Linked DNA regions of Homo sapiens. The protein of the gene in region 4 purifies or fractionates together with the protein of the main gene of each other region. This does not show direct contact. Each region holds a gene or a part of one and is shown on either strand. Other genes may lie near its edges. The genes, in order: UBXN4, MAP3K20, CHD4 and BCL11A.

What was found.
Region 1: the proteins of BCL11A (region 4) and UBXN4 purify together in Homo sapiens (affinity purification with mass spectrometry; 4 studies listed by BioGRID and IntAct, with this or other methods). This does not show direct contact.
Region 2: the proteins of BCL11A (region 4) and MAP3K20 purify together in Homo sapiens (affinity purification with mass spectrometry; 2 studies listed by BioGRID and IntAct, with this or other methods). This does not show direct contact.
Region 3: the proteins of BCL11A (region 4) and CHD4 purify together in Homo sapiens (affinity purification with mass spectrometry; 5 studies listed by BioGRID, with this or other methods). This does not show direct contact.

Annotation. Positions count from the first base shown.
Region 1 is NC_000002.12:135,737,806-135,744,875, reverse strand, and holds the start of UBXN4 (UBX domain-containing protein 4), read right to left. Parts: upstream 3,022-7,070; 5' UTR 2,947-3,021; coding exon 2,865-2,946; exon of another isoform or gene 2,232-2,864; intron 1-2,231. UniProt on the Homo sapiens protein: Involved in endoplasmic reticulum-associated protein degradation (ERAD). Acts as a platform to recruit both UBQLN1 and VCP to the ER during ERAD.
Region 2 is NC_000002.12:173,190,825-173,197,845, reverse strand, and holds part of MAP3K20 (mitogen-activated protein kinase kinase kinase 20), read right to left. Parts: intron 6,952-7,021; coding exon 6,923-6,951; intron 6,807-6,922; coding exon 6,669-6,806; intron 135-6,668; exon of another isoform or gene 1-134. UniProt on the Homo sapiens protein: Stress-activated component of a protein kinase signal transduction cascade that promotes programmed cell death in response to various stress, such as ribosomal stress, osmotic shock and ionizing radiation.
Region 3 is NC_000012.12:6,590,359-6,597,379, forward strand, and holds part of CHD4 (chromodomain-helicase-DNA-binding protein 4), read right to left. Parts: intron 5,780-7,021; coding exon 5,648-5,779; intron 5,073-5,647; coding exon 4,976-5,072; intron 4,293-4,975; coding exon 4,101-4,292; intron 3,259-4,100; coding exon 3,058-3,258; intron 2,871-3,057; coding exon 2,733-2,870; intron 2,460-2,732; coding exon 2,338-2,459; intron 2,209-2,337; coding exon 2,035-2,208; intron 1,700-2,034; coding exon 1,558-1,699; intron 1,468-1,557; coding exon 1,336-1,467; intron 1,226-1,335; coding exon 1,108-1,225; intron 1-1,107. UniProt on the Homo sapiens protein: ATP-dependent chromatin-remodeling factor that binds and distorts nucleosomal DNA. Acts as a component of the histone deacetylase NuRD complex which participates in the remodeling of chromatin.
Region 4 is NC_000002.12:60,550,637-60,558,642, forward strand, and holds the start of BCL11A (BCL11 transcription factor A), read right to left. Parts: upstream 3,019-8,006; 5' UTR 2,635-3,018; coding exon 2,580-2,634; intron 2,079-2,579; exon of another isoform or gene 1,862-2,078; intron 272-1,861; exon of another isoform or gene 232-271; intron 1-231. UniProt on the Homo sapiens protein: Transcription factor. Associated with the BAF SWI/SNF chromatin remodeling complex. Binds to the 5'-TGACCA-3' sequence motif in regulatory regions of target genes, including a distal promoter of the HBG1 hemoglobin subunit gamma-1 gene.

The DNA.
Region 1 (7,070 bases), about 75 Mb from region 4:
TCAATGCTTAATGACAACTTTCCTAATACTACTGAGTGGGATGACTGATTGCTAACTCTGGTATCTTTCATTTCTTATTTTTAATCAAATTATCAACTATAAAGTTAGGTGGGCCTAAGATTTTAGGAGAAAACAGCATATCCTTTGTATCGGCAGTATCCTAAGCGAAGGCACTTAAAGAGAGCAACACGAACTCAGAAGCAAAGAGTTGCAGACCCTCATACAGCCAGTCTTTCCGATGTAAAATAAATCTCAACTGCTCAAAACCTAAAGGCTTCTGTGGTCTACATTCACCAAAAAAGGCAGAAAATGGCGTCTATCATTAACAAAGTTTGGCCTACCTACCTAGCAACATTAGCCAGTGAACAGATACCTTTACTTCAGTCTCGTCAGATTATTCTACCTTCCCAAGTATTAAATGAATATCGTTTTGTTTCACTTACTTTACACAGCCACAATACTTTGAAAATCATATTAATTTGTTAGCTGAAGTAGTAGTAATCTCTCGTCTCCTAACATCAACTCTACAATATTCTTTAATTCATCCATGAAAATGTCACTAACTAAAGACCACTTGCCTAAAACGTTTCCCACTTGAACAGTTCTATGAACCAAAGTGTACTCTTGAGATCACGTCTTCCAACTATAAAGACATCTTTCAAATTTTCCATTAAGTTGGTATATTATTACTGAGATCTTAGACCTAAGAAAATCACAAGTTCTGACTTCAGAGTTATGAAGAAAGCTCTAAGCAATCTGTAAGTGTTTTGGTTTCATGAGTCCAGTATCTACATACTCCTAGAGTGACACTAATCCTACTTAGTCTTGGGGATTAACTGGCTAAAGCTCTAAAAAAGCTAGCTGGATTTTGGAACAGGTCAAGGGACAGACAGAGACTCCTTTGTGAGATTGCTAACAGTCTTCCTGCAAACATTCAAGAGTCATTATATTCTAAATACATGTAATACATGCTCATCAGTAAAAACTTAATTGAAGAAAGTATATATATATACACAAAACCCCGAAAGGCAAGACCTATAACTTTATTTAACTATTCCAATAATTTGTACTAGAGTTTCCAAATATTAATATTTGTTAATAAAAATCTCTCGTTTCTTTTTTTAAATTAACTGATTTACCTCAAGAGTGCCTTCTAGGAATGTTTGGACATTTGTTCAAAAACATGACTACCATAATCCAAATTTCTGATTTCTATACCAATTTAAATCACCAATTTACAAATTGTTCAGTTTTTTCCTTAAGAAACAAAAAAGCCAGTTTTTTTGAAGCTACTAAAAAATTTGACTGTTAAGACATGTAAATCCTTTTTGTGGCCCTAGTGCAAGTCACTTTATGACTGCTGACCTAAGTGCCTCATCTATAAAATGGGGATAATTAAACCTGTTCTATTTACTGCAAGGATCAACTGAGATATTAGGAGAAAAACAATTTAAAATGTCAAAAACCTACTAATGTACACAATAAGCATAGTGTCATTTACTTTTCCTTTCATTTTCAATCCATTTTTTTCCTTACGGGATTACAGAATTAATTTATGTAAAGTATAATATAACCCCCAGACAGCATCACAGAATCTAAACTATTCAAGCTCTTCTAATAAACAGCATTGAGCTAAAAACTTGGCGTAACAAAACAATTATAAATTCCAAATTTAATGCTAAATGACATTCACATTTCAGTAATTCGTTCTTCACTGCAGTGCATAAAGTTATAGAGCTATTAAAAGACGAGTTAATTATGAATAAACCGTTATTAAACACAAATAGTTGAAGAAATACACCTCAAATTAACAACAGCCACAAACATTGATTTGGTCCATGTAATGAGTATGAGCAGAACCGTAGAGGCAGGGAGTTCACTGTAAATCTACAAGATTTCAGTAATAAAACAGGAGAATATGGAGCAAAATAGCCTAGAGCAACAGAGAATATATGAGTTAATAAACGTTCTCAAAGTCGTGTAGATTTTAGCCTAAGAAGACAACAAAGGGAAGAAACCAAGGACTGAACGTCTATTTTCTTTGAAACTAATGGATTTTTTTTAAACTTACATTATTTCACACTAGATCCCCTACCAAGACTGCCATAAAGAAAAATTAAACCTCTATTCAGCTCAAAAGTTTACGTTTCAGGAACGTACTAACACCAGTAACCGTGAACATCAGGTGGTTTCTCTTTGTTGCTTATCGATGACACAGCTTTCTTCCCGACAGTCCACAACTAATTACAACCCAACTGCTTGCCTAATGGCCCGTTCCTACCTCCATCTAAACAGCAGTAACGAAACGGGCGTTCAAGCAGCACAAAGAGGGTCCTTGGTGACAGAGAGGGACGTCAGGGAGAGGGTCGCGGGGGTCTGGCTGCGCAGGGGAGAGGCTCGGGGCGACGAGCGGGGCTGGGCGGCTGGGGCCTGCTGGCCGCGTCCGTCGCCCCGAGCGGGGAGATTTCGGCGGGCCTCGGGGCGCTTTGGAGACCAGGGCCAGACGGTGCCTCCGGCCCGGCTGCCGGGAGACGCAGCGGTGGGGCCAGGCCCACTGTATCTCAAACGAACCGGGGAGGCGCTGAACAGCCACGGGCCGGCAGCCCGGGCCTCGCAGACACTGAGGAAAGGCTGGGGGCGCCCGGGGCCTGAAGGAGCAGGGCGCTGAGGGTCTGCATGGCCCCTCTGGGGGATCTGGCGGCGGAGTCGCAGCCGTCCCTGGGGCGCGGGGTAGTAGTGGCAATTGTGCGAGCCGACAGGAGCCCGCGTCTCGGGGAGGGCGGGCCGGCGGCTGAGGTATACAAGAGGATGAAGGTAGGCCGGAGGGGTGTCCCGGCCGCCTCTCGAACCCCTGCCTCCTTCACCTGCCACGAACACCACGAAGACCGCGCCGCTCCTTTTGGCCGTCGCGATGGCGGCCGGAATGGCGCCCTGGAACCACAGCATCGCTCCCTTCGGGCCCAGGCGCTCGCTCGGTGTGTAGTCTCCGCAGTCCCGAAGCCGGCTCCGCCCTCCGTCTTCGTCCGGCTCTGCGGCCCCCGCAACCTTGGCTGGTTCGGCCCCCACCTCCGGCTCCGCACAAGCGCGCACGCCCGTCAGCGGCACCCGGAGACGCGCGCTAGCGCGCGCGAGAACACCTCACGTCACAGTCGCAACCCGTCGGTGTCCGTGCCCCAGGACCTTCTCTCGTTGGCGAGTCGATGGTGCGGGCGCGCGCCCGCTAGGCCTCCGGTCGCGCAGTCCAGGAAGTGGAGGAAAGCGGTAAGAGGGATGACTAACCGCTAAGACACGTCGGCGGCGCCTGCAGTGAGGCATGATGGGAATTGTAGTCCACTTAGGCTTATTCGCCTCCATATTGTGGAGCATGTAACTGTGGGTTCTGAGGCACAGCTAAAGGGGGCAGTAGTGAGGGCCACTACACATTCTATAAAGGGGAGAGGGAGAAATAAGTGTCACTCCAACTGGCATATGCTATTCTCGGCCTCGTTGAGACTCTCAGTGTGGAGGAAATAGTCCTCGCATGGAACTAAATGGGCTTTGTCGGGATTAACTCCGAGGCTTTGATTTCTTCTGAACGTAGCCCAACCTTGCAGAAAAACGGGATAAAAACCGCAAGTCACCTTCTTTAATAACCTGTAGTCCATGTGCCTAAGCGGAGGAATTGGTAGAACGCAGGCCTTCAGCAATTTCCTAGACACTGGATAGAGATCATTTCAAAACTTCAAAACGCGTTAGGCTATTGCCACAGCTACTTTTTAAAGTAACACAAAGCAGAGAATAGATTATTTCTTTTCCAGCTACTTTCCATGGTAATACAAAAGAGACTAGATAGTGATTTATTTTCCAATTTTCTGGGAGAATGTCCTATAATCAAGATGTGGCGCTTTGTGATTGGCTGCCATTAAATGAAAACTGATCCATATTTAATACTTTCATGAAATCACATGGTCTGTAATAACTATTAGCTAAAGGCTTGCATGGTTTATTTAAAGTTGCATATACTATTATGTTAAATTCTACATCAATTAAATTTATCCTCCAGCAGTACATCTATCTGACAATCTTTGCAAGATAAAGGAAGTGATACATCTGAATATACCACCTTTCCTACAGATATTTTCCCTAAAAATAGCTAATTATTTGCACTCCGATTTTTGTACTTTTTTTCCCAATCAGGCCTCTCGTATATAGTGTTATTATAAACTGAGACATAATGCTGATTAGGGACAGTTGCTTCTATAGGACAACAATCCTACAGAAAAATTAGAATTGACCTTTAACATCAACTTTAATGGACTTCTGGAAATTTGATCAATCTAGAAATTATTCCAATAGAGCTATGTCTTTAATTATCTCTAATTTTAGAATTAAATAAGAATCCTTCATAGTTTTATATTCATTTGTCAAGTGTTTATCACTCATCTTTTATGAGCTAGGCATTGTGCCTGGCACTGATAAGGAGGTGAGGCAGTCAGAAGAAGGCCCTGTCTTTGTGACTGTACAGTCTAGTCAGGAAGACAGACATTGAATAAGTAATTATGAGTGATGATAAATGTCACAGAAGGGTAATTCAGAGTGCTACAGAAGTGTATGAGGATGGGACCGAACATGGGCTAGTGGAGTCAGAAAGGGCCTTCATGAGGAAATGACGTGTCGGGGAACTCTAGGTAGGTGAAGGAGAAGGCTATTCCACATGAGGCTCTGAAGCAAGCAAACACAGTGCACTTGCAGAACTAAAAAATGCCCAGTGTGGCTATAACATAGAAAGAGGAGTGTGGTACAAGTGAGGCTGGAAAGCTAGGCAAGGATCAGATGATACAGAGTCTTGAAAATCATGTTAAAAATTTTAAGACATTTTTCTAAGGATTACAGGGAGCCATTGAAAAATTTTAAACAGAAGAGTTGGCCAGGCACAATGGCTCATGCCTGTAATCCCAGCACTTTGGGAGGCCGAGGCGGGCAGATCATGAGGTCAGCAGTTCAAGACCAGCCTGACCAACGTGGTGAAACCCCATCTCTACTAAAAATACAAAAATTAGCTGGGCGTGATTGCACATGCCTGTAATCCCAGCTACTCAGGAGGCTGAGGCAGGAGAATCGCTTGAACCTAGGAGGTGGAGGTTGTAGTGAGCCAAGATGGCACCACTGCCCACCAGCCTGGGCGAAAGAGCAAGACTATATCTCAAAAAATAAATAAATAAACAGATACATATAAGACTTCCATTTTTAAATTGTATGATAGCAATTGAATAGATTGGATTTGAAGTGGAATGGCTGAATGTGAATAGACCAGGTAAGAGGTACTTATTCATGTATTAACATAAGGGAGATAGTGAAGTGGATGCTTTTGATATTCTGGAGACAGACCCAATATATTTTGTTGATTACATGTGGAGGTTGAGGAAGAAGGACTCAAGAAGGGATTTTGTGGCCAGGTGTGTTAGCTCATGCCTGTAATCCAAGCACTTTGGGAGGCCAAGGCAGGAGGATCACTTGAACCCAGGAGTTTGAGGCTGCAGTGAGCCATGACTGCACCGAGCCATGACTGCACCACTGCACTCCAGCTTGGGCGACAGAGCAAGACCCTGTCTCTAAAAAAAAAGAGAGAGAGAGAGATTTGGGGTATCTGCCTTGCAAAATCGTAAAGAAGATGGTACTGAGATAGGCAACACTGAAAGAAGTGAAGGATGGTGGGGAGGTTGTTCATGAAGGTGTGAGTTCAATATTAAACATGTGTTTGGAGTACTAGAGAGATATTCACATGCAGTGTTAAGTAGGCAGATAGCTATTAGTCTTGGAGCTCAGATAACAGTTCTTAACTAGAGATAGGAAAGTGAGATTTATCTACATACAGGGGATCAATGAGGCACTGGAAGATAACGATACCATCACTTAGGGAGATGGTGCAAAGTGAGGTGAGACACGAGCATGATTGAGGTCTTAGGGCCTCCAACGTTTATAGGGTTGTATTAAAAAGTATAAACCAGTAAAAGAGACTCAGCAGGAAAGGCAGAGTGTGGGGTGGTGGAAGAAAATGGGAGAGTGTGTGATATCAAAGAAGCCAAGGGTAGAGAGAATTTTAAGAAAGGAGAAGCAGTGGTGTGGAATGCTGCTGTTGGGTCAATTAAGATGAGAGACTAAAAAATGTCCATTGTTTTTAGTAACACAGAGGTCATTTTAAGCTTAGCAAGAGCAATTCTCATGGTTCTTGTGTACAGAAGCCAGATGGCAAAAGGTTGAAAAGTAAGGGGAGGTAAAGAGTCAGTGAGTGTGAAGGTGAGAAGGAAGAAAGGAACATTAGCTGGACAGGAATTTGGATTTGAAAAGACAGCCTTTTTAAAGATGGGAGAGATTTGCATAAAATTAAATGCTAGTGGAAAGGAACTGGTCTTAGATTGAACAAATGGGAAAATGGAAGGCCCCTCTGGAGATGGGAGGGAAAATGGGGTATACAGCACATTCTGTTGATGGCCGATCCAGCAGTCATTCTTCTACCATGCCTTCTATTATTCCTTCCTGACAGAATTCACTTTCTACTGAGAGGCAAAACTGCTGGGTGCAGTAGCTCACTCCTGTAATCCCAGCACATTGGGAGACTGAGGCAGACAGATCACTTGAGGTCAGGAGTTTGAGACCAGCCTGGCCAACATGGTGAAACCCCATCTCTACTAAAAATACAAAAATTAGCCAGCCATGGTGGCATGCACCTGTAATCCCAGCTACTTGGGAGGCTGAGGCATGAGAATCGCTTGAACCCGGGAGGCGGAGGTTGCAGTGAGCAGAGATTGCGTCACTGCACTCCAGCCTGGGCTACAGAGTGAGGCCCTGTCTCAAACAACAACAACAACAAAGCAACCTGCCAGATACTGGGCTTTTCAACCTCCCCTTGAAGCCAGTAAAACCTTGTAGGAAGGGTAGGGGGGTGGGAGGGGCTACTTCCAGGAAAAGCTTTCTTAATAAAAGACACATAGAAGAAAGCACAGATTGGGCGCAGTGGCTCATGCCTATAATCCCAACATGTTGGGAGGCTGAGATGAAAGGATTGCTTGAGGCCAAGAGTTCTAGACCAG
Region 2 (7,021 bases), about 110 Mb from region 4:
TTCTTTTTTATAAAGAAAAAACCTGGTTTAGAAATTAGGACATCTAGAGCCAGACTTAAAATTTTATGAAACCAATGGGCCTGACTGATTTAATGTCATCTCATAAATTATCAGAATTTTTATGTTCTCACAAATTAGATTGTATATTTTGTTAGTTAAAACTCGTTCTACCTTCAATTTCTGATACATTTGTCTAGGAAATAATAACTGGGAATTCAACAATATTTTAAAAGGTTCAATAATGGTCTCATCAAAAATAACTGAGCCCCAAATCCAAATCACTGGCTAACCTACCTACCCCACAATGGTAGATACTTGCAAAATTGTAATATTTAGATTTTACAAGTTACATTTTAGATTTTGGAGAAATCTCCCGCAAAATGAGTCGGTCTAAGGGATCTATTTTCATCTACCTACAATATAATCTATTATACCATACTCTAAGATGTAATAAACACTTTCTATACATATAAGCTGACTATGTGAAAGTGAGCTTATGTGTGTGTTCATCTTTGTGCAGTTCTTGAGATCAGTATGATTATTAAATCTGAGTGGAATGCCCAAAGAAAGCAAATTGATGCTAGGAATACTGCTGATTTTGGGTTCTCTTGAAACACTGAGTAATGGAGATTTGTATACTATGTTACTTTTCCCTGTTTATACAAATGGAGTTCAAAAATGTGAGTCTACCAATACTCTGTAAAGTGCAAAAACAATTCTAGTTTTATCAGTAATAGTCCTAATAATAAAAACCACCACCGCTTATTGAGTACTTATTATATTCCAGATGCCCTTTTCATATATTACCATGATTAATAGCAATCCTACTGGATACATCTTACCCTTATTTTATAGGTGAGGTAACTATTTAAAAAGTTAAAAAAAAAAAACTTGCCCAAAGACAGTCAGTTATCCAGTGACAGAGCCAGACTATGAACCTGCTGGCTCACCCCAAAGGTCAGGCTCTTGACTCCTTTTAATGTGAGTGAAGGGAAAGTGACAGTACTTGAGAGAATGCGACAGGCCCTGTCTTAGGTATGGCGCCCTGGGAGAAGCAGGAAGAGAACCAGTGGCTTCGACTCAGATTTCCCTTGTTTTAAAAACAAAAGCTCATTTCTAATAGGAACGTAGATGGAGCACACATACTCTCTAGTCAAGCAAATCATAGAAACCTTTCACTCCATATCCACTATTTCCTCAGCCAGTGCTCAGTCTCATTTCAACCATAACACAGTAAATGAATTCTGGCTAATACGAAGATAATTAGCAGGAAAATCAGGGAAATTGGCAGATGCTGCTCAAGCAGGAGAAAAAAAATTCACTGAAGCCTCTTTGGGCTTTTAATCAAGTGTGTAAGGTACTCCTTTAGAGGAGCTACTGAATAATTCTATTTGAGTCACACAAGTGATTAGGAAAAGGTAAGGGGCATCCCACAAGGGGACAATTCTAGTGAACACCACACGTAAAGGAAGGGTGACAGAACAGGTATGCAATCACCCTGACCTACACAGGGAGGGAGGCTGGGCAGCAAGAGGGCTGAGCAGGAAATGGAGCCCCTCATTTGGCTGCAATTACCACTCCACAGGGGGCTAGGGCTGGGGAGGGGAAAAGATACGAAGGGCAAGTAAATTAATGGATGTGGCATTCCTAAGGAGAATGGGAACAGGGAGTTAGCCTCCAATAAATCAAACGCTCCAGACCCCCAAACGCACAGATGAGCAGTGCCTCTTCTGAGTTTGGCCTGCAGGTATGATAAACACGCCGTGTACATGTGTGCACACATGCACAGACTGAATTTTGTGAAGTAAATTGCAAATCCAAGAGTTTGGGGGGACAACACCAGAAAAACATTTACGTCATTCTTGATTCCAAAATATTCTGCTGGAAAATGTCCAAAATCTAATAAAATTTAAGTTATATTTCTCTGAGAGCTCTAACCGTGAAAAATAAAGAAAAAAATAAGCCAATTCCATTTGACTCCCTCTGTGTCTCTGAAGAGCTACTACAGCTGAGGGAGTTACTTGATGGATGTAAAAGTGTCTGAGGTGGGGTCATTAGCTGCTATGTCCTGAAGCCCAAATGAGGTCTTTAGTTTAATTCCAGTATCAGCACATCTCATGATTTCCTTTTATTAATTCCCTGGATTTGGGGATGTATCAAAAAGCAGGTGGTATAAGATAGGACATCAGCTTTTTTTTTCCACACTAAACAAAAATAACATTTGGCATACAAAAGTAACTTTACTGAGGAAGTCACTTGGAGGTCTAAAAATATATTAAATGATGCCTAAAAATACCAGTTATGAGGATTCAGGCCAAATATTATTGTGATCTTTCACCTTAAAAATATTTTCCGACTCATTTTATATTGAGACGTCCTCACATTTAAACTGTGCTCACAAGGAAAATTTATGTTTTCAGTTTACAGAATAGAAACTTGGAAAAGACTACGTACTTTTTCTGCCCTTTCTTTTCCAAACAATAGAAAGCCATTACCTGAGCCCAGCTTGTTCTGGAACAGTGCTCACAGACAAGCCAGGCAGCCATGCTGTCTCTTAAGCCACTATGTTTTCAAGGCTGGTTTTGGCTGAGAAGCTTCTAAGAAGGTAATCCTTTCTGCATTGTCATTAGAATAGCTTTTTTTTTTTTTTTTTTTTTAAAGAGAGGCTAGGCCTTGTGTTCTCAGAAGGCTTATTCTTTCAGTGATTTTTGCTTTTCTTTTTTTGTGGATAACATACTAAACACTCTTCCAGGTTCAGTCCTCCAAGAGTTCTCATAAGAGGGTAGAAAAATCTCATTTCTCATAAAATGGAGGGAAACAATTGCCTCCCTAGCAAAGTTTACCAGCTTAAGAGCAAGGATCATAAAATCCACTTCTGGCATTCACAGCACATTTATTTTAAGGCAGTACAAGGTTAGTGAGTCTTGCCATTTGTTAAGAAGCAACAAAGGTTTATCAACCTGGGGAGGGCTGGTGGTTTTGGGAGTAGTAGGGGCTAAATTCTTACAGCAGTCTAAAAAATTAGAAAAACAAAAAGCAAAAATATATTGCAGTTTTTTGGGTGGATTTTAAAAAAAAAACCTTTTTTTTAATGGTCTTATTCATCTGTATGTGACTGCTGTGTGTAGAGGGGGTTTCAATGAACAGAACAGACTCCCAATGAACAATGGGATATTTAATGCAAATAAATGCTCCTACTGACAAAGGAGTCTTGGCTACTCACCTATTTTTGAAAAGACATAAAAAATTCAAAATAACCACATTTTGAATTAAAATAGGTATCATTTTCCAAGTTTATGGACCACAAACTTCTAAAACTAACATGGTCCCAACCTTAACAACTATCCTCACCTGCTCTTTTCTATAACATCTACTTTGAACACATAATGCTTTCTTCATTAAAAAAATACCTGTGGTTGTTTAAATAAAAAGTCGCTGGAAAGCATACCTCGTATTTTTTCTCTCATTAATGGTGTTTATTTAGAACAAACAGAATGAGAAGAGGTCAGAATTAAATATTAGGTTGGTGCAAAAGTAATTGCAGTTTTTGCCATTACTTTTAAATGGCAAAACTTCAATTACTTTTGCATCAACCTATACAGTCCTGAGTTCTTGTTTATAATTAAATTAGCATCTGTACACTTTTCTGAATGGAATTCTGCTGACACAACATTCTGTGAGGCAAACCAGCATTCCAAGCAAACCTCTGTCTTCAAGACTCACACAGCAGAAGCTGTTTTAAAATAGACTCACTCACTGAAATGGCATTTCTGTTTCCACCAGGTAAGGGAAGGCTCTAGCATGAATGCAGAATTGATATTCCACATCACATGATGGGGTGGACAGGTTCTGCAGAGCAACATCCAGTGTGTAAATACAGAGCAACACTGGAAATGCTCAGTGGCTGGTGGTCGAGTTTGTTTCAGTAAGTGAAATTACTCCATAGGATGGTTTGTTAAGCATTTGTTAAATCCCTCCAAAACCAAACCAAACTAAGCAAAGGTAGGGTCAGCACACAAGTAGAGAGAAAAGCTAATCCACAAAGAGACGTGTTCAAGCCCTTCTACTGAAATGTGGTGCATAGTTTCTTAAGTGAAAAGATTTTTAATAAAAAACACTGAAAATGTGCAGCTCCAGAAAGGTTGACTCAAACTATGTTTAAGAAATGGGGTCAATGTGGAATGTATGAAGAGATTTTAAAATGATACAGGAAAAAAATCCTAAGCTCTCCAAACAGAAGTCACTCTTAACATCTTTTATAGTTTATGTGTGAAAAGGAATTTGTGCTTGGCTACTGGTACTAAGATTGTACTTCATCTCAGGAAAAGCAGAGGGGGGCATTTCACACCAAAGCCCTGGCAACTGTAAGGCTTTGAAAGAAGGCAGCATAAAGTTTGTTTTCATATATGAAATAATGTTGAGGCTAAAAGTTCAATGTATGTATAGTTGTGTCTTAAGGTCAAAAATTTTTGAGATAAGGAAATTCAAACACTTGGGGAGAATTTTAAAAGTAAAAGCACTGTATGTGTGTGGACTCATAAGTGCAAAAATGAACCTCAAAAGTCTTCTAGTTCATATAAATGTGACAAACAATTTAAAAGCTGTAACAGTCTACAATAACTATAACCAACATACATATATACCTAACACCAACAAACATGTTTATATACATTTATATACACATGCACATTAAAGGAGTGGGAGCAGTGGGCTCCTGGTGAGCCACTCTGAACGGTCAAGCCACGTTCCTAAACCACGCTGCTCATCTTCCCAAGCCCTCTTGTTCCAGGGAGGTGCCCGCAACGATGGCCTGCTGCAGAATACAGAGTGGCTTTTTCATGTTTGATGGGTTGTAAGAAACAAAAAGCCAACTATGGCATCTATGAAGACTATGCAACAGAGACTGTAAGTGGCCCTCAAAGCCAAAAATATATATTATCTGGTCCTTTCTAGAAAAAGTTTGCTTGTTCCTATTTCAACAGGACAAAACGAGAGGCCGTTCCCAACAAGCAGGCTAAGAAAAATTTAAATTACTCTCAGGTGGTGTGTGCCTCAGTAAATAAACGTTTGGTTATAAATGAAGGAATGCACTTTCACAAGAGAAAACAATCTTACAAAGAGTCTTAAATTGCTACAAATACCCCATTTTCAGAATATCCCACAGATGAATGTATGATGGTTAGAATGTAGTAACATTTGACATAGGAGACCAGTTTTATAAGCTAGTCTCCTCTGAAACTTATGAGAAATATTTGATCACTGTAATAGCTTATAGTCTTCATTCTTAAGAAACCAGAATCAAGGGATATCAGGTATTGATTTTTTTTCTTTTTTTGGATATCAGGTATTAAGCCTGATGTTACTCTTGCCTTCTGACCTTTAAAATTCTAGCCTTCGGTCAAAAACATATTTCATTCTTGAAATGATTTTTTCAATAGCTAACAAAATTAATCTTTATTAATTTGGTATACATAGGATGTGTTATGATTTACAAAAAGCTAGTCACTGAAACAAGTCCAAAACCTGTGAAGCCAGCATTAAATACCTAGAGACCGAATAAAGAAAACAAAACAAAACAAAACAGGTCTGACAACGTGAATCTCCTCTTGTGTCATTGGCTACCACCTGCAGTAAGAAAACACAGAAGTTCAGGACGAAGAGACAGGCTGATTTGGACCTAAAACAGGCTGCTTCTTTACCCATTACTATGAAAATGCCCTTTTAGGAAGTAATAGTATAAACAGCAGGGCAGTATAATAGTATAAATAGCAGGGCAGTATGAGATGTAAAGACAGGGAATTCCAAAACTATTTTGGACTTTTTAAAGAATACGTAACATTTTAGGGAAAAGTTTATCCTCAACAAAAGGCAACAAATGAATTCCTTCCTCCAGCAAAGAACTCTCCCACTCCACTTCCTTCTCTCTGATAATGCAGGTATAACCTATTCCTCAGGAAATGGCCCATCTCCAAATTCCTCCTCCAGGAGCTTCTGCTCCTTAACGGATTCATTCCTGTGGTCTCTTCCTTGAGCACTCCACCCCCTCATTAGTCTATTCTCTATGTGGCTCTGCTGTGATTCTTATGTAATGCCTTAGAGTCACGCTTCAGATAGTCACTGCTACTCTAAGACTGGCAGCAGACATGGACAAGGTCATCTGGTAAGTGCTAAGTACATTTTCTTTTGGACTTTTAGAAACCGATGAATCAGTTTAATAGTTGAGACTCAAAAGTTTCCTGGTAATTAACTCGCTTGGCAGATCTATTGGTGATTTTATACTGTTTAAGCAATCCATTACAATGAAGTCCTGTTCCAAATGATCCACATTTCCATTGAAATTACAGAGAGAGTCCACAGTCACATTACCACCCTGCAAAAAATCATTCTCACAGGCAAAGCGGAGCCCAACACTATCTCGGATTCCATTTAATTTGTTTCTTGGAAGTGGTGTTGGTTTCTTCTCAACACAGGACAAAATAACTCCGATGATTAAAAATGATTAAACATTTTGGCAACTAGGAAGCGTTCTCCAATGGTGCTGCTTTAGGCATTCCACCAGCAGTACAGTCTCAAATAAAAATAAAACCATGTTAAACTGTATCTCTCTTCTTTTGAGTGTTTGCTTTTTGTATTTCCCTTAGTAAACAAGAAATGAGAAATGAACTCACCACACCATAGGAATATGTGTCACAAGTTTCTGACACAGGGAGACTCTGGATAACTTCTGGAGCCATCCATGGGAAAGTTCCAACCAAGGACATGTGTGTTGTATGGTTATGGAACCGAGAGGCACCAAAGTCACAGATCTGAGAAAACAGGAATCAGTGTCAACTTTCTACTTATTGGCTAATTAAGGGATTATCAGTTACAAAAATCTACATCTGAAATTAACAATTTTTTTAAGTAAAAGAAATAGTCCTACCTTCAATACTCCATCAGCAGCTATAACAACTAAAAAAAGAAAAAAGGATAAATTATGACAATCATCTAATTTGTTTGAGCTGTCTTCTACTGAAAAAAA
Region 3 (7,021 bases), on a different chromosome or scaffold from region 4:
AGTACAATACCAATGTTAATTTTCTAGTTTTGATCATTGTACTGCAGTTACGTAAGTTATTATTAAGAGAAGCTAGCTAGTTGAACAGTATACATGAACTCTCTCTGCTGTTTTGCAACTTTTTTCTAAGTCTAAAATTAAAATAAAAAGTTTTTTTTTTTTAAACAAGGAGTAGTGATACTGAGCACAGTGGCTTATGCCTATAATCTCAATACTTTGGGAGGCCAAGGCAGGAGGATTGCTTGAGCCCAGAACTTTGTGATCAGCCTGGGCAACATGGCAAGACCCCATCTCTACAAAAAAATTTTTTTAGTTAGCTAGGTACAGTGGATCAAGCCTACAGCCCCAGCTAGTTGGGAGGCTGAAGCAGCAGGATCACTTGAGCCTGGGGGTGTGTCCAGGCTGTAGTAAGCCATGATTGTGCCACTGCTCTCCAGCCTCGGCAACAGAGTGAGACCCTATCTCGAATAAACAAAACAAAACAGGCTGGGCGTGGTGGCTCGTGCCTGTAATCCCAGCACTTTGGGAGGCCGAGGTGGGCGGATCATGAGGTCAGGAGATCGAGACCATCTTGGCCAACATGGTGAAACCACATCTCTACTAAAAATACAAAAATTAGCTGGGCGTGGTGGCACACGCCTGTTGTCCCAGCTACTTGGGAGGCTGAGGCAGGAGAACTGCTTGAACCCGGGAGGCGGAGGTTGCAGTGAGCCAAGATCGTGCCGCTGCACTCCAGCCTGGGCGACAGAGCAAGACTCCATCTCAAAAAAAAAAAAAAAAAAAAAAAAAAAAACCTAGTAGCGTCTACTGAGGCAGACAAGTCTGCTAGTAACTTGCTATTTGAGCTTGAACAAGTCCTGACCCTTTGCTTGCCCTCGAGATACAATGCTTTCTTCTTTCTAGCAGAAAGAACAAATACCCCAAAAGAAAAAATCTCCTAGGAATAGTCCAATACATTCGTCCAATTGAGACATTCAAAAGCTTTACTCCATCTCAAATGACAAAGTCCCAAAAGAACTACACAGAAAAGGAGATGCACAAGAAGTTACAGTCCAAAGATATAAGCAAATGAGGATTCCTGAAACTAAACAACTCCTTCTCTCTCACCATTGAAGCGGTCAATGGCCTCTTGCCGCATGTTCCCAGTGATTCCACCATCGATGCGTTCGTATTTATAACCTTCATGTTCCAAGAAATCCTCTAGCAGGTCTAGCATCTTGGTCATCTGCAAAAGAAGCACGGTTTAATTATGGAAGAGTCAGATGGTAATCCCTTTCCTTAGGTCACTAAGGGTTGTCTATGACTGTTCCCTAAAGCTCCCAGTCCACATGATACCTGGGAAAAGATGAGTACACGATGCCCACCCTCCTTAAGGTTCTTGAGCATTTTCTGCAGCAGCAATAATTTCCCAGATGCTCTGATTAGGGCACTGCCATCATACATGCCATTAGGCATCTTAGGAGCTTCCTGAGAACAAATGCAAAGAAAAAAGTATTAAAAGAAAGCCCACATGGAGAAGACCCAACCCAGGGAGGAACAGGAGATGGCACTACATACCATTGCAGCCACAGGGAAGAGGTATGGATGGTTGCAGCACTTCTTAAGATCCATCACCACATTCAGCAGAGACACCTGGTTGCCACCACCTCGGGCATTGAGTGCTTCAAAATTTCGAGTGAGGATGTACTTGTAGTATTTCCTACATGGGCAAGGTAGAAAGACAGGTTAGACTTGAGAGCCTTTCAATGACTAATAATGCAGTGCCAACAACTGAGATCTTTCTTCCAACACATCCCACTTTGGAACTAAGGACACCTAACGCACAAGCACTACCACCACCACCATTTTAAATAAGGAAAGGTATAACCTAAAATAAGTAAGAACTATGCGCTCCAGCGCCCTAGCATCAGGTTTCTTCAGGCCTTGCTTGCTCCTGTCACCAGATGCCTTGAAGCTGAGTGGGGGAGGAATAGGAAACACTCTGCAGACTGGCAGATGTCTAAATGGAGTCTGCTTCTGTCCCTCCCAACTCACTTCTGCATAGGGCTCAGCTCCACACGCACAATTAGTTCTGTCTTGGAGGGCATGTTCTTGAACACATCGGCTTTGAGCCGCCGCAACATGTGCGGCCCCAGCATGTCATGCAGTTTTTTTATCTGGTCCTCCTTGGCAATGTCAGCAAACTCCTCCAAAAAACCTTCCAAATTGCTTCAGAAAGAAAAAGGAAAAAAGTTATTGGAGAAGGAGAAAGGAAGAAAGAAAAGTGATACAGGAAATGGGCAACAGGAAGAATGAGAGGCACAATTATGAGCCGATTACAGATAAACACATACTTACTGGAACCTCTCGGGGGTGAGAAAGTTGAGCAGATGAAACAACTCTTCCAGATTGTTTTGTAATGGTGTCCCAGTCAGCAACAGCTTGTGCTGGAGTGAGTAACCATTCAATACCCGGAAGAACTGGTGAAGCAGATGGAGAAAGGTGAAATCCAATGAAAACAGAGCTCTAGCAAATCTCTACAAAATTTCAAGTTTTTCACTGCCCAATAGTTAAGCATCCCACTCCTCACATTCTTTTTAAAGGCCTGGCCACCAAGGGCTGTCACATACAAGGAAGGAAGGCAGAGACAATTTTCCCCTCTCCTCTCCATCTACAAGTTTTCCCCTTAATGAATTGGTAGTACTAGAAAAAACCCAAAGTGGGGGCTCCAACATCCCTCCCTCAGCCCTCACCTTAGACTGATTGTTCTTCAGCCGATGGGCTTCATCCACGATGAGGCAGGCCCAATCAATAGAGCCCAAAATAGCCATGTCAATGGTGATCAATTCATAGGATGTCAGCAGCACATGGAATTTCACAGATGCCTCTTTCTGCACATGAAGGCAACTTGGTCACTACTAGTCAGTTCCTCTGTGTAAGCACAACCAGGAGACTGATGGAATGTTTTCCTCCTCCCAGGGTTACCCTTTTGCCTCACCAGGGACCAGATCACAAGGAGGTAAACTAAGCCAGAAGCCACAACTCTTTCTCTAGGGTGGCTTCCCTCCCCTGAGATACCTTCATGCGGGAGGCCTTCTTGCCACCACGAATGGCATTGTCTTCAAAGGAGAACTCATTCTCTCGGATGATGGCACGGCTGTCCTTGTCACCCACATAGGTTACGACATACATGTCTGGAGCCCACATTTCAAACTCCCGCTCCCAGTTGATGATGGTAGAAAGAGGGGCGCTCACTAGGAAGGGGCCTTTGGAATGACCCTTTGAGAAAAAAGAGGAGAGTCAGGACTGAGGGCCCCAGCACACTGCAACCCCAGCGAACACCCACCACCCTGCTGCCCCCTCAAGCTGAGCCAAGGACTGACACACCTGCGCTGCTGCTCCTGCTCTCACCTTCCTCTATACAAGTGCCCAGCCCACTCCTTTCCAAAAACCCAAGGTCCCACCATAACTACAAGTCTTACCTCTCCCATTAAGTCTTTATATACTTTTTTTCTGAGACGGAGTTTCACTCTTGTTGCCCAGGCTGGAGTGCAATGGCGCAATCTCAGCTCACTGCAACCTCCACCTCCCGGGTTCAAGCGATTCTCCTGCCTCAGCCTCCCAAGTAGCTGGGATTACAGGCGTGCACCACCACATCCGGCTAATTTTGTATTTTTAGTAGAGACGGGGTTTCGCCATGTTGGTCAGGCTGGTCTCGAACTCCTGACCTCAGGTGATCCACCAACCTCGGGCTTCCAAAGTGCTGGGATTACAGGTATGAGCCACTGCGTCCAGCCAAGCCTTTCCATACTAATTCTACTCATAATTCTACTTCCCTCAACACACAATCATTCCCCTAGAACTGATACTCTATGGATCCACTGCTAATCCTACCCAGGGCTCCATGCCCTCAAATCTTCCGCTGTGTACATGTGTTTATCCACTATCACATTTATCTACTATCTACTAAACACATGTGTACATGTGTTTATCTATTATCCACAGTGTTCTTGAAGGTCAGAGACCAATTTTTTTATTCCCTTATCTCTCTACTCAGTGTAAGTTAAGGCTTCAAACACAAAACACCCACACAAAAAACTATCCACCCCAGATTTCCTTACCTCCTTGTAAAGGGAATACAGGAAGACTGCTGTCTGTACAGTTTTCCCAAGGCCCATCTCATCAGCCAAGATGGTGTCAGTGCCCTGAGCCCAGGAGAAGCGCAACCAATTCAGGCCCTCCATTTGATAGGGGTGCAGGGTTCCACCTGTAGCATCCAGGTACTCTGGCTGTCGCTCATACTTCACTGTTGGCTGAAGGATGAAACAGAGAAGTCAAGAGCTGGCAAGGAACTCCCCTCCTCCCCTAATAGAGCAGCTGCTTCCTCCTCACTAGTCTTCACGGATCCTCTTGGGGAAGAGCTCCGGAAAATTCGGAGGGAAGAGATCCCCTATGATTACTGCAATTTCATGTTCAGTTTAGGGTCCTCCAGGAAACAGGGCTTAACCAGACCTGATTTTGATCCTACAGATCACTGAGGAAAAGCACGTCACAGACTCCCTACCAATACAATAATTCTACTAGTCAGGATCCACCAGGTAAATAATCGTTATGTCCCTCTTAGATTCATCTTTTTAACTTTAATCACCCTCAAATTACACTGTACAAACAAAACCCAGAGGAACTGAGCCTGAATTAAGCCAGATTCCTATGTAAGTGCATAAAAGCTAGGCTATGTGGCCCCTCCCCCCAGACAACACTTCTTCAATCATTCAAAATATACCTCCTTTTTTTTTTTCTGATGACAAAAGAAGAAAGTAATCCTAGTGCTTTCTGATATATAGAGATGTGGAGAAGTGGGGAAGCCGACTTTGTGAAGTAATCTCAGCTACAAAGTTACTATCTGCATTTCATTACTTAAGAGTACCATCATTAGACTGCAGCAAAGATACATTGTCCTACCCAACAAACTACAGTCCCTTCCACCCCCACTCACATCAACTGTTGGCGTTTCTGGAGGCCTCTCCAACTTCCGAAGCTTCACCTTCTTGAGCTTCTTGCCTGGTCGGCCTTCCTCACCCCTCATTAACTCCCTAAAGAAGAAAGACATCACACAGCTGCCCAAAATCCTTTTCTATAGAAGAAACAACTTGGCCAGGCACAGTGGCTCACACCTGTAATCCCAGCATTTTGGGAGGCCAGCACTTTGGGAGGCTGAGACGGGCGGATCACCTGAGGTCAGGAGATCGAGACCAGCCTGGTCAACATGGTGAAACCCCGTCTCTACTAAAAATACAAAAATTAGCTGGGCATGGTGGCAGACGCCTGTAATCTCAGCTACTCGGGAGACTGAGGCAGGAGAATTGCTTGAACCCAGGAGGCGGAGGCTGCAGCGAGCCAAGATCGCACCATTGCACTCCAGCCTGGGGGACAAGAGCAAGACTTCGTCTCAAAAAAAAAAAAAAAAAAAATCAGCTAGGTGTGGTGGCGTATGCAAATAATCCCAGCTACTCAGGAGGCTAAGGCAGGAGAATCGTTTGAACCAGGAAGTCGGAGGTTGCAGTGAGTCAAGATCACGCCACTGCACTACAGCTTGGTGACAGAGCAAGACTCCATCTCAAAAAAAAAAAAAAAGAAACAACTCTATGCCTCACCCAAAATCACTCACCTGTGATTCCAATAGCTCTGCTTGAACAGGTCGTAATCCTGGATCTCCACATCCTCACTCTCCCAAGAAGCCTGATCGTAAGGTAAGTCCCGCCACTTGATCAAGTAGTGGACGTGGCCCTTCTTGTCCACACTGCAAGTCCAGGAGAGAAAACCCTCAGAGCCAGAAAAGGCAACCCTCCTCACTTCCTCTCAAAAACTGGCAATACCGTTTGTTTCACACCAGACCTCTAGGTATGCCACAGATCACACGTTTTCAGAGCCTCTACTGTACCAGTCTCTGACCAAAAATTATCTCTAATTTATACTTTCCTAGAGCTCAAACACCAGAATTCAGTCAGTTAATAATTAACATAGAGTGTTGGCCGGGTGCAGTGGCTCACGCCTGTAATCCCAGCACTTTGGGAAGCTGAGGCAGGCAGATCGCTTGAGGCCAGGAGCTCAAGACCAGCCAGGCCAACATGGCGAAACCCGTCTCTACTAAAAAAAAAAAAAAAAATTAGCCAGGCATCAGGCCGGGCGCGGTGGCTCACGCCTATAATCCCAGCACTTTGGGAGGCCAAGGCAGGCGGATCACCTGAGGTCGGGAGTTCAAGACCAGTCTGGCCAGCATGGAGAAACCCCGTCTCTACTAAAAATGCAAAAATTAGCCGGGCATGGTGGCAGGTGCCTGTAATCCCAGCTACTCGGGAAGCTGAAGCAGGAGAATTGCTTGAACCCGGGCGGCGGAGGTTGCAGCAAGCTGAGATTGCGCCACTGCACTCCAGCCTGGGCGACAGAACGAGACTCCATTTCAAAAAAAAAAATTAGGCAGGCGTGGTGGCACACGCCTGTAATCCCAGCTACTCTGGAGGCTGAGGCAGAGAATCACTTGAGCCTGAGAGGCGGAGGTTGCAGTGAGCTTAGATCATACCACTGCACTCCAGGCTGGGCCACAGAGCAAGACTCTGTCTCAAAAAATATAATAAATAAATAAATAAATAGGCCGAGTGCGGCGGCTCACGCCTGTAATCCCAGCACTTTGGAAGGAGGAGGTGAGCGGATCACAAGGTCAGGCGATCAAGACCATCCTGGCTAACACAGTGAAATCCCGTCTCTACTAAAAATACAAAAAAAAAAAAATTAGCCAGGCATGGTGGCGATGGCCTGTAGTCCCAGCTACTCGGGAGGCTGAGGCAGGAAAATGGCGTGAACCCAGGAGGCAGAGCTTGCAGTGAGCCAAGATCACGCCACTGCACTCCAGCCTGGGTGACAAGTCTGTCTCAAAAAAAAACAATAATAATAAAATAAATAAATAAAGATAATAACATGAAGTGTCAGGCGCAGTAGCTCACGCCTGTAATCCTAACACTTTGGGAAGCTGAAGCAGACAGAT
Region 4 (8,006 bases):
GTGGCCCCCTCACCCCCTCCCAAACTGGCCCTTTAACCCCGGGACAGGAGGAGGGGGTACTAACCCTCCCAGCCTAGAGTGTCCCAAGATGGACCCAGGAGGGAGAGGGGTACGAGGGAGCAGCCTGGACTGCGCGCCCCGGTCTGTCCTTTGAGCCCCCACTGCATCCTTCCGAAGAAGGGCCTGACTTTCCCGAGTCCTGCGAACACTGCCCTTCCTTCCCGCCGGTACCTGGCCGGGCTGTAACTTCACACCGCCGCGCGCCGCGTCTGATCCGCATCCGGCGCGGCCGGGGGAGTTGGGGGCGGGGGAGAGCGGCGAGGGAGGGATGCGAGGGGGTGGGGAGAGGGAGGGCCGCGCAACGTGCCGGGGTGGGGGAGCTTCCGAAGTGTGTGACAAGTTCCAGGGCCCAGTGAAAAATTAAATTCCCTGTGCGCACCCCCCACCACCACCCCTTTAAAAAAACACAGAACCAAGTATAGGTGGTCCTTTAAAACTGCATCAAAAATTTAAAGTAAGAATCATAAATTGAGTAGGGGGGGAATGTGGGCCCTCACGCCTTTCTTTCCCTTGCTGCCAAACTTTCCTAAGTGCCCACCGCCCGCCTTTCCAGGCGCAGTCAGCGGGAGACAGCCACCACCACCAGCTCTTATACAGACTCACAAGAACCTCAGACCAAGCCAGGCCTGGGGAAGAGGGCAAGACCCAAAGGGTGAAGTGCTCGGGGTCCCAGGATCCAGCGCCCTTAAAATGCACACTCAAACACACTTCTCCCCTGCCCTTCCCCGGCAACCCCGCCACCTGGCCTAGTCGTGCTCGGGGCGCAGGGGGACTGGTGACCAGACCGGGCGGGGTGGGGGGTGGGCAGGGAAAGCACGTGGTGACCTCCTCGCGGTCCCGAGCTGTGGACAAGAGACGTCTGAGAAAGTACCCAGGGCGGAGGGGAGGGGAGGCGCAGAACGCGCTTTTACAGTTGCCCTGCAAAATAAAAATGCTTTGCAAAGCCGAGTTTCACCCAGCCGATTTCGCAGTCTGGGAGGTCGAGAAGAGGTCTCGGCATTGTGCTGGGGGCGGACCAGGACCACGGGCCAGGCTGGCGCGGAGACACTGCGTGGCCTGCCGCCGTGCCTGGCGGGTGGGCGCCGGGCGCCGGGTGGGCGATCCGGGGCTGGGCTGGGGCGCGGCGAGGTCGGGCAAGGCCCGGGCGAGGCCAGGCCGCCGCCGCCGCCTGCTCCGGGGCTGCCGCGCCGCGCTCGGTCCTCTGTCTGTTTGTTGGCAGGAGGCTCCCGCACACGCGGTGCTTGTAAACATTCAGACACGAGATTTTTCCCAATCAAAATCCACTTCCACTTTTTTTGAAAATCTTCCAAAAAATAGTAAGAGGAGGGAGTTCCTCTCTCCCTCTCCGTGCCGTCGGCGCCCTAAGTTTGCAACTGAAGGGGTTTGGGGGAAGAGGGTGATTGTAAATTTTTTTCTAGATGAGAGATTGTGAGATTTTTGCAGGGGGGCTGGTGGGGGAGTCAAAGAGAAGGCCGTCACAGAAAAGGGTTGGCAGAGCGTTTGGCTTCGGTTTGGGGGCAAGAAATTGTACATTCTCTTGCCTTGTTTTATTTATTTTATTTTTATGTATTTATTTATTTATGTGCCAGTCTTCTCCTTGCTGCCTCTGAGGTTCGGTCGGGAGGGGAGGGCAGCGGCAACCCAGGAGGCAGCAGTCCGGGCTCCCTCCCTCCCTCTCCCGCGTGCCCCCGGCCGCCTCCTCCCCCGGCCCTAGCTCCTGCCCTTCGGCGGCGGCGGCGGCGGCGGCGCGGGAGGGCAAGCGCGAGGAGCCGGCACAAAAGGCAGCGGGACAAACACCCACCTCTGGCCGGAACAAAAGGCGGCAGTGCCGGCCGCGTCTCCCGTCCTTCCCGGTCCCACGGCTCTCCCCGTCGCCGCGGCCCCTCTCCCGACTCCGCGGACTCAGGAGCGCCGGGGGCCCCTTTCCACAGTGCCACTTTCTCACTATTGTGGGGATGACTACTTTCCTCCCGCTGCACACTTGACCGTGAGCGCGCTGGTGTCCAAAAGCCAGTCTCACCTCTTTTCTCCCCGGGAATCGTTTTTTAGACTTGTACTCACTCCCTCCCTACCCCCCCATTTTCTTACGGTGAGTGGGAAGCAACCTCCCTTTCCCCACCAGCTCCCACCCCCAGGTTTGCATGTGAGTTGTTCGCAACCTTAGCATTGTTCATTATTTTGCAAAACTGGCGGGGCGGGGGGGGAGTGGAATCATTGCATTCCTTTTCGAAAAGAGAAATAAAGCGGCGGAAAGGAGGAAAGAGGAGGAGTCAAATTTTTGTAAAATTAAATAAAATTAAAAGGTGCGTGCTGTCTCAAAAGTGCATACACGGCAATGGTTCCAGATGGGATGAGGGTTTTTTCCCCCTTTATCTCTTTTACCTCGACTCTCGGAGGTTTTTCTCGTGAAAAATTTAAAAATGCATGCACACACCCCTCTCTCCCCCTCGCTTTTGCTTCTAGTCCTGCGCGCTCTCGTGATTATTAATAATTATTATTACTATTATTGGGTTACTTACGCGAGAATTCCCGTTTGCTTAAGTGCTGGGGTTTGCCTTGCTTGCGGCGAGACATGGTGGGCTGCGGGGCGGGCGGCGGCGGCGGCGGCGGCGGCGGCGGGCGGACGACGGCTCGGTTCACATCGGGAGAGCCGGGTTAGAAAGAAGGAGACTCCAGAGAAAATATCTTCATCAGTGCCTTTTGACATCCAAAATAAATTAGAAATAATACAAAGATGGCGCAGGGAAGATGAATTGTGGGAGAGCCGTCATGGCTTTTTTTTAAGCAAAAAAAAAAAAAAAAAAAAAAAAAAAAAGAGGGAGAGAGAGAGAAGAGAGATAGAGGGAGAGAGAGAGAGAGAGATGAAAAAAATGGCAAAAGCCCCCCTGAGCTGCAAGTTCAAGTGCGGACGTGACGTCCCTGCGAACTTGAACGTCAGGAGTCTGGATGGACAGAGACACACAAAACATGGGCAGGGCGAGCAGGAGAGAAGGGGAGGAGGGAAGGGGAAGCTCACACCAATGGACACACATCAGGGGCTGGACATGAAAAAGAGACCAGGACAAGCCAATGGCCAGTGCGGGGAGGGGGAGGTGCGGGGCGGGGGGCTCCGCGGACGCCAGACGCGGCCCCCGGGGGAGGGGCGGGCCGAGGGGAGGGGGCGCTGGGGCCGCGGGCTCACCAGTGGCCGCAGCGAGCGCCGCGGCGGTGGCGTGGCCGGGAGAGAAGAAAGGGGTGGCAGGGGTGGGAGGAAAGGGTGGGGGGGAGCAAGACGTGCGCCCTGCTCCCCCCCACACACGCGGACTCTAAAATGAAAGATTATTCAAAAAAGAAAAAAATAGAGCGAGAGTGCACCGGGAGGCTGCAGCCCCGGGCTGGGGAAGCGCGGGCGGAGGGAAGCCAGGTAGAGTTGCTCCCGGACACCCTCCTCCGTACGCACACCCACTTCCCCTCCCCGCCGCCGCCGCGCTCGCTCCCCGCGTGTGGACGCCAGGGGCCGAAGTAAAAGCCCCGAGCCCGCGGCTGCGCTCGGGAAACTTTGCCCGAGGAGAGGACAGCAAAGAAAAATCACCCGAAGTTGAGAGCTGAGCCTCCAAGTTACAGCTCCGCAGCGGGCGAGGGGAGGTGGGAGGGAGCGCACGGCAACGCGGAATCCAGCCTAAGTTTGGAGGGCTGCGGGTCCGGAAGGGCAGCGCCCAAGTCTCCAGGAGCCCGCGCGGCCTGGAAAGAGGGGACCGGGGAGAGGCAGGCGGCGCAGGCCGGGGCCCGAGGGCGCCCCCAAGGCCGAGCCAGGGACCGGGAATCTGAGCGCCCCGCCAAGCGACTGGGTCTGAATGCAACTGAAAGCGCCGAGTCCCCGGCTCCTAAGGGTCGCAGAAAGAGAGCCCGAGGAATAAAGAACGAGGAGCCAGAGTCTGGCCCCCGGAGGGGAGCGCCGGGGGCCTGGGCAAGAGAGGCACCGAGGCGTCCACCTCTCTGAGAGGCCGAGGACAAAGCGCGGGCAGTCCCGGGAGTCCCAGTCCCTGGGAATGTGCTCACGGCGCCGCGGGAGGTCCCCGAGCCGGGTCCCTGGGAGGGACACACCCCCTCCCACTCCAGAGCAACTGCAAAAGCACAGAGGGATGGGAAGAAAATGTTTCTTACGGGCAGAGCACAACTGTTCCTGTGCTGTTACCCAGGGAAAGAGAAAATGGGAATGGAGAGAGAGCGACAGGCTCGCAGGAGCAGCGGGGAGACCACGGTGGTGAGATGACCGCCTCGGGTCACCGCCGCGCTCCCCAGGCGCCGCCGGCCAAGGCGCACACCCAGGAGCCAGCAGCCCCCTCTCGCCTTTCTGCAGACGTTCCCTGGAAATTAGGGAAGACCTGTTGGAAATAAAACCCTGTCTCTTTAATGCACACACGCACACACACGCGCGTGCTGCCGCTGTCAAAAAGCGGGCTTCACTCTGGCGTGGGATACTTTCAGTTTTACGTAAAATGTACAGCAACAGCACCCCCTGCGATTGGAAAGTTTATTCAGAAACGTGCCTGTAAAGTCCCCTGGCGCCTCCCGCCTCCCAGCCTCCCTGCCTGCCAGCACCACTCTGCAGCCGCCGCCGCCGCCGCCGGGGAGATCGCAGTCCGATTCCAAATCTGGAAGGAGTTGGGGGGAGAGGAGAATGGACTCAGGTCCAAGGGAGGTGCGGAGGGTGCAGGGTGGAGACGGGTCGCCATGGCCCGCGAGACCCTGAGCTGCAGGTGGATATGTGTGAGTGTGTCTGCAGAGCGAGGAGCCCTCCTTCCCTCTCCTCGGAGCGGTTCCACAACCCCCGTCTTCTCATCCCCCTCTTCAGTCTAAAGGGTGTCGCTTCCGTAAACTCACCCACCCGGTGGGGGGGCTTTATTGTTTTAAGCGAGGGCCCCGGGCTTGCACGCGCTCACCCATCCCGCAGCCCTGCCGGCAAGCGGCTGTTTATTCCTGTTTCGTCTTAGTAAAGTTTCAAGTCTACTGTGTTAGAAAATGACTGGCTTGCCTAGCTCGGCGGAGCTTCGGACCCCTCTAAGGAAGAAAAGGAGGTTTTGATGCTCAACATTGAGAGAGATGTGGGCTGTACTGGGATTGTGTCAATGTGGTTTGTTGTTTGTTGTTGTTTCCCTCCAGTTTGTGGGAGGGAGACCTCAAATTCTGTTTAAGAAGCGGGAGGATTCACTAGAAGTTAAGCTCTGTAGCTTGTGTGTGACACCATTTCCCCTTTTCACTGAGTTCTTCAGAGCAGGTCAGCATCTCTATTCCACCACAGTCTGCTTTTTGTCTTGTTAAACCAGCCTTGGAGTCACCAAAAGAATGTCTTCTTGGGGGGTGGCGGGGGAGGACGACGTGGGGGACGGTTGGAGGGAAGGTGAAGAGAGGGAAGAAGAAAGTGCAACTGGGAGGCCTTTGAAAAATAAATAAATAAAAGAAAAGCCCCTTCAGGTAACAATAGTGAGCCAGATTCTTTCAGAACCAAGCTTTTCAGATTTGAATATTGTTCCCACCCGTCCATAAAAGTCCATCTATAGAGAAGATATATAAATGAGCGAGTGAGTGTTGTGGAAATATATATATATGTATGATTTATATATAATGGTGTGTATAAAGCTTTTCGGGGTTGGCTGTAGTGTAAAAAGTAATGACTTTATTACCTCTGAAAGGTTCTGTGGTTCACATTTAACAGTCTTCTGAATTACAATTCATTACACAATTGTGTGCGCTCTGACGATGGCACCCTATCAGGGCTGCTATCTGTGGCTATTTCCAATAAATAACTGGCAACATTTTATTGATTTTCCTTTTTAAAAAAAAACATAGGAAATTAAGCACTTAGTTACAAGTAGGTCTGCTATGTTATTGCACTTGTTTCAGATTCCAGGGGGTTCCTTCCTAAACCACATCTTAAAACATACATTAAAAAGCCAGTTTTGCAGCTGCTTTCCCTGGGTGCCAAAGGAGAGGTAAGCAGCGACGATTCCCCGACATATATTTAATTTCACCATCATAATATGCCCAGGGTGAAATGGGAAGTGCCCTCCGCTCCCGCCCCTCCCCCAGCCAGATTTCACCCAGTCCAGAAAACCACGGCTGTGTGTCGGCATTTGATCCCTCCTGGTCGTCGACCCCCCTCCCCGGCCCCTGGTGCCCTCCCCTAGGGCGACAACCCCTCCCTCAGCACTGCTGGATGCTCGCTAAAGAGCCCGAAAGTGGGGGAGGGGAGGGTTTGTATGTGTGTTTAAAGAAAGATGTGTCGTTTTAAGAGATTTTAAAATATTACGTAAGTATTGATTAATGATGCAGGTGGTTTTGTAGAGGGGGTGAAAGGTCACTTTAAATGCGCACACTTGGATACACAATAAGTATATTTACCTTTCCAGAAGTGGCTTTTAGAAAGTAATAAATTATGACAACGTTAAAATTATTTTCTGGCCGTTCAGTTAACTTCGTTTGGGGCTGTAGAGCTGTTGCTGCTCCCATTGAAAGGGTAATTACGTTCCGTGGGCTCTTTCCCAAACCTTTGGTGACGACACTGCGTGTAAACTCCAGGCCAGCAGACGACCCCTCCCCTTCCCTCCTCCCCCTTTTTATCTTGCCCGCGGAGGAGACGCCCCAGGACTTCCTGCAGTATATATTCTGCCTCTGATCTCCGTACTTAATAGCCAAGTCCTAGTTTATGCTTTATAATGTGTTGACAAGTTTTCTAACAGACTTTCTGAAATAATGCACATATATTCACGTCGGTTAGAAACCCACCGTATTTTTAGAGTTGAGTAGATCTATACCCTAATGCAGTGAGAGAGTGTAAATCATACAGGATTTCATAGTCCTTTCAGTAGTTTTCGGTATGAAGTATGAGCCGCGTGGCCTCCAGACGTAACCTTTTAGAAAAAAAAAAAGACAGTGCTTTTATTTTATGGTGTAAAGTGCTTTTAGCTCAAGGGCTCTGAACGTGAATGTGGTCAACAAACAGCTCGAAGAGGGAGACTTAATACAGTCCCAGCCCTCGGACCGAGGATCGCCTGGCGCGAGGAACTCGGGCTGAGCTGGAAGATGAAGGGTTAAAAGGTCTGTCAGGATGGAAACTACAAGATTAAAATAAAATATTCACTGTCTGCCTTTAGGGGGAAACACCTTCATAGACTCAAAGATAAATAAGTGAATGACTGAATGAATGATTAAAAATACAATCATTTCCTTCTTGATTTTTACTTTAGCCTTTTTTCTTCTTTTTATTTCTTTTCTTTTAATTTTTATTTTTTGTTTTTCCTAATTGGCAGGTCACAAAATAGAGAACAGGCAGTCATCTTCATAAAAATAAAACTTAGGTTTGGATTCTATGCTTGGCATAGGTTTTGTATTTTGGGTCTCAATGATGGAAGTGCTAGGCTGTTGTTAAGACAAAGGAAAAATGAATTTTAAAATGTTGGGAATGGCTGGGGGTGGTGGCTCACACCTGTAATCCCAGCACTTTGGGAAGCCGAGGTGGGAGGATCACTTGAGGTCAGGAGTTCAAGACCAGCCTGGCCAACAATGTGAAACCCCATCTCTACTAAAAATACAAAAAATTGCTGAGCATGGTGGCGCATGCTTGTAGTCCCACCTACTTGGGAGGCTGAGGCACAAGAATCGCTTGAACCTGGGGGACAGAGGTTGCAGTGAGCCAAGATCACATCACTGCACTCCAGCCCGGGCAACAGCCTGTCTCAAAAAAATAATAATAAAAATGTTAGGGAGTTGCTTGTGGAAGAGGATGAGCTTCTTTTTCCTCCTCTACTCCCAGTGTGACCCACAGGTTGGGAGGTCCCTGGAGGACAGTATCTATACCTTCTACAAAGGCACAGACATCTCTCAAGGAGGCTCCTGGGAGAACCATTAGTCTGGCATCTTTCTCTCCAGGCTCCCTGGGCCTTTAGCTAGCTAGCAGTCAGCGCTTC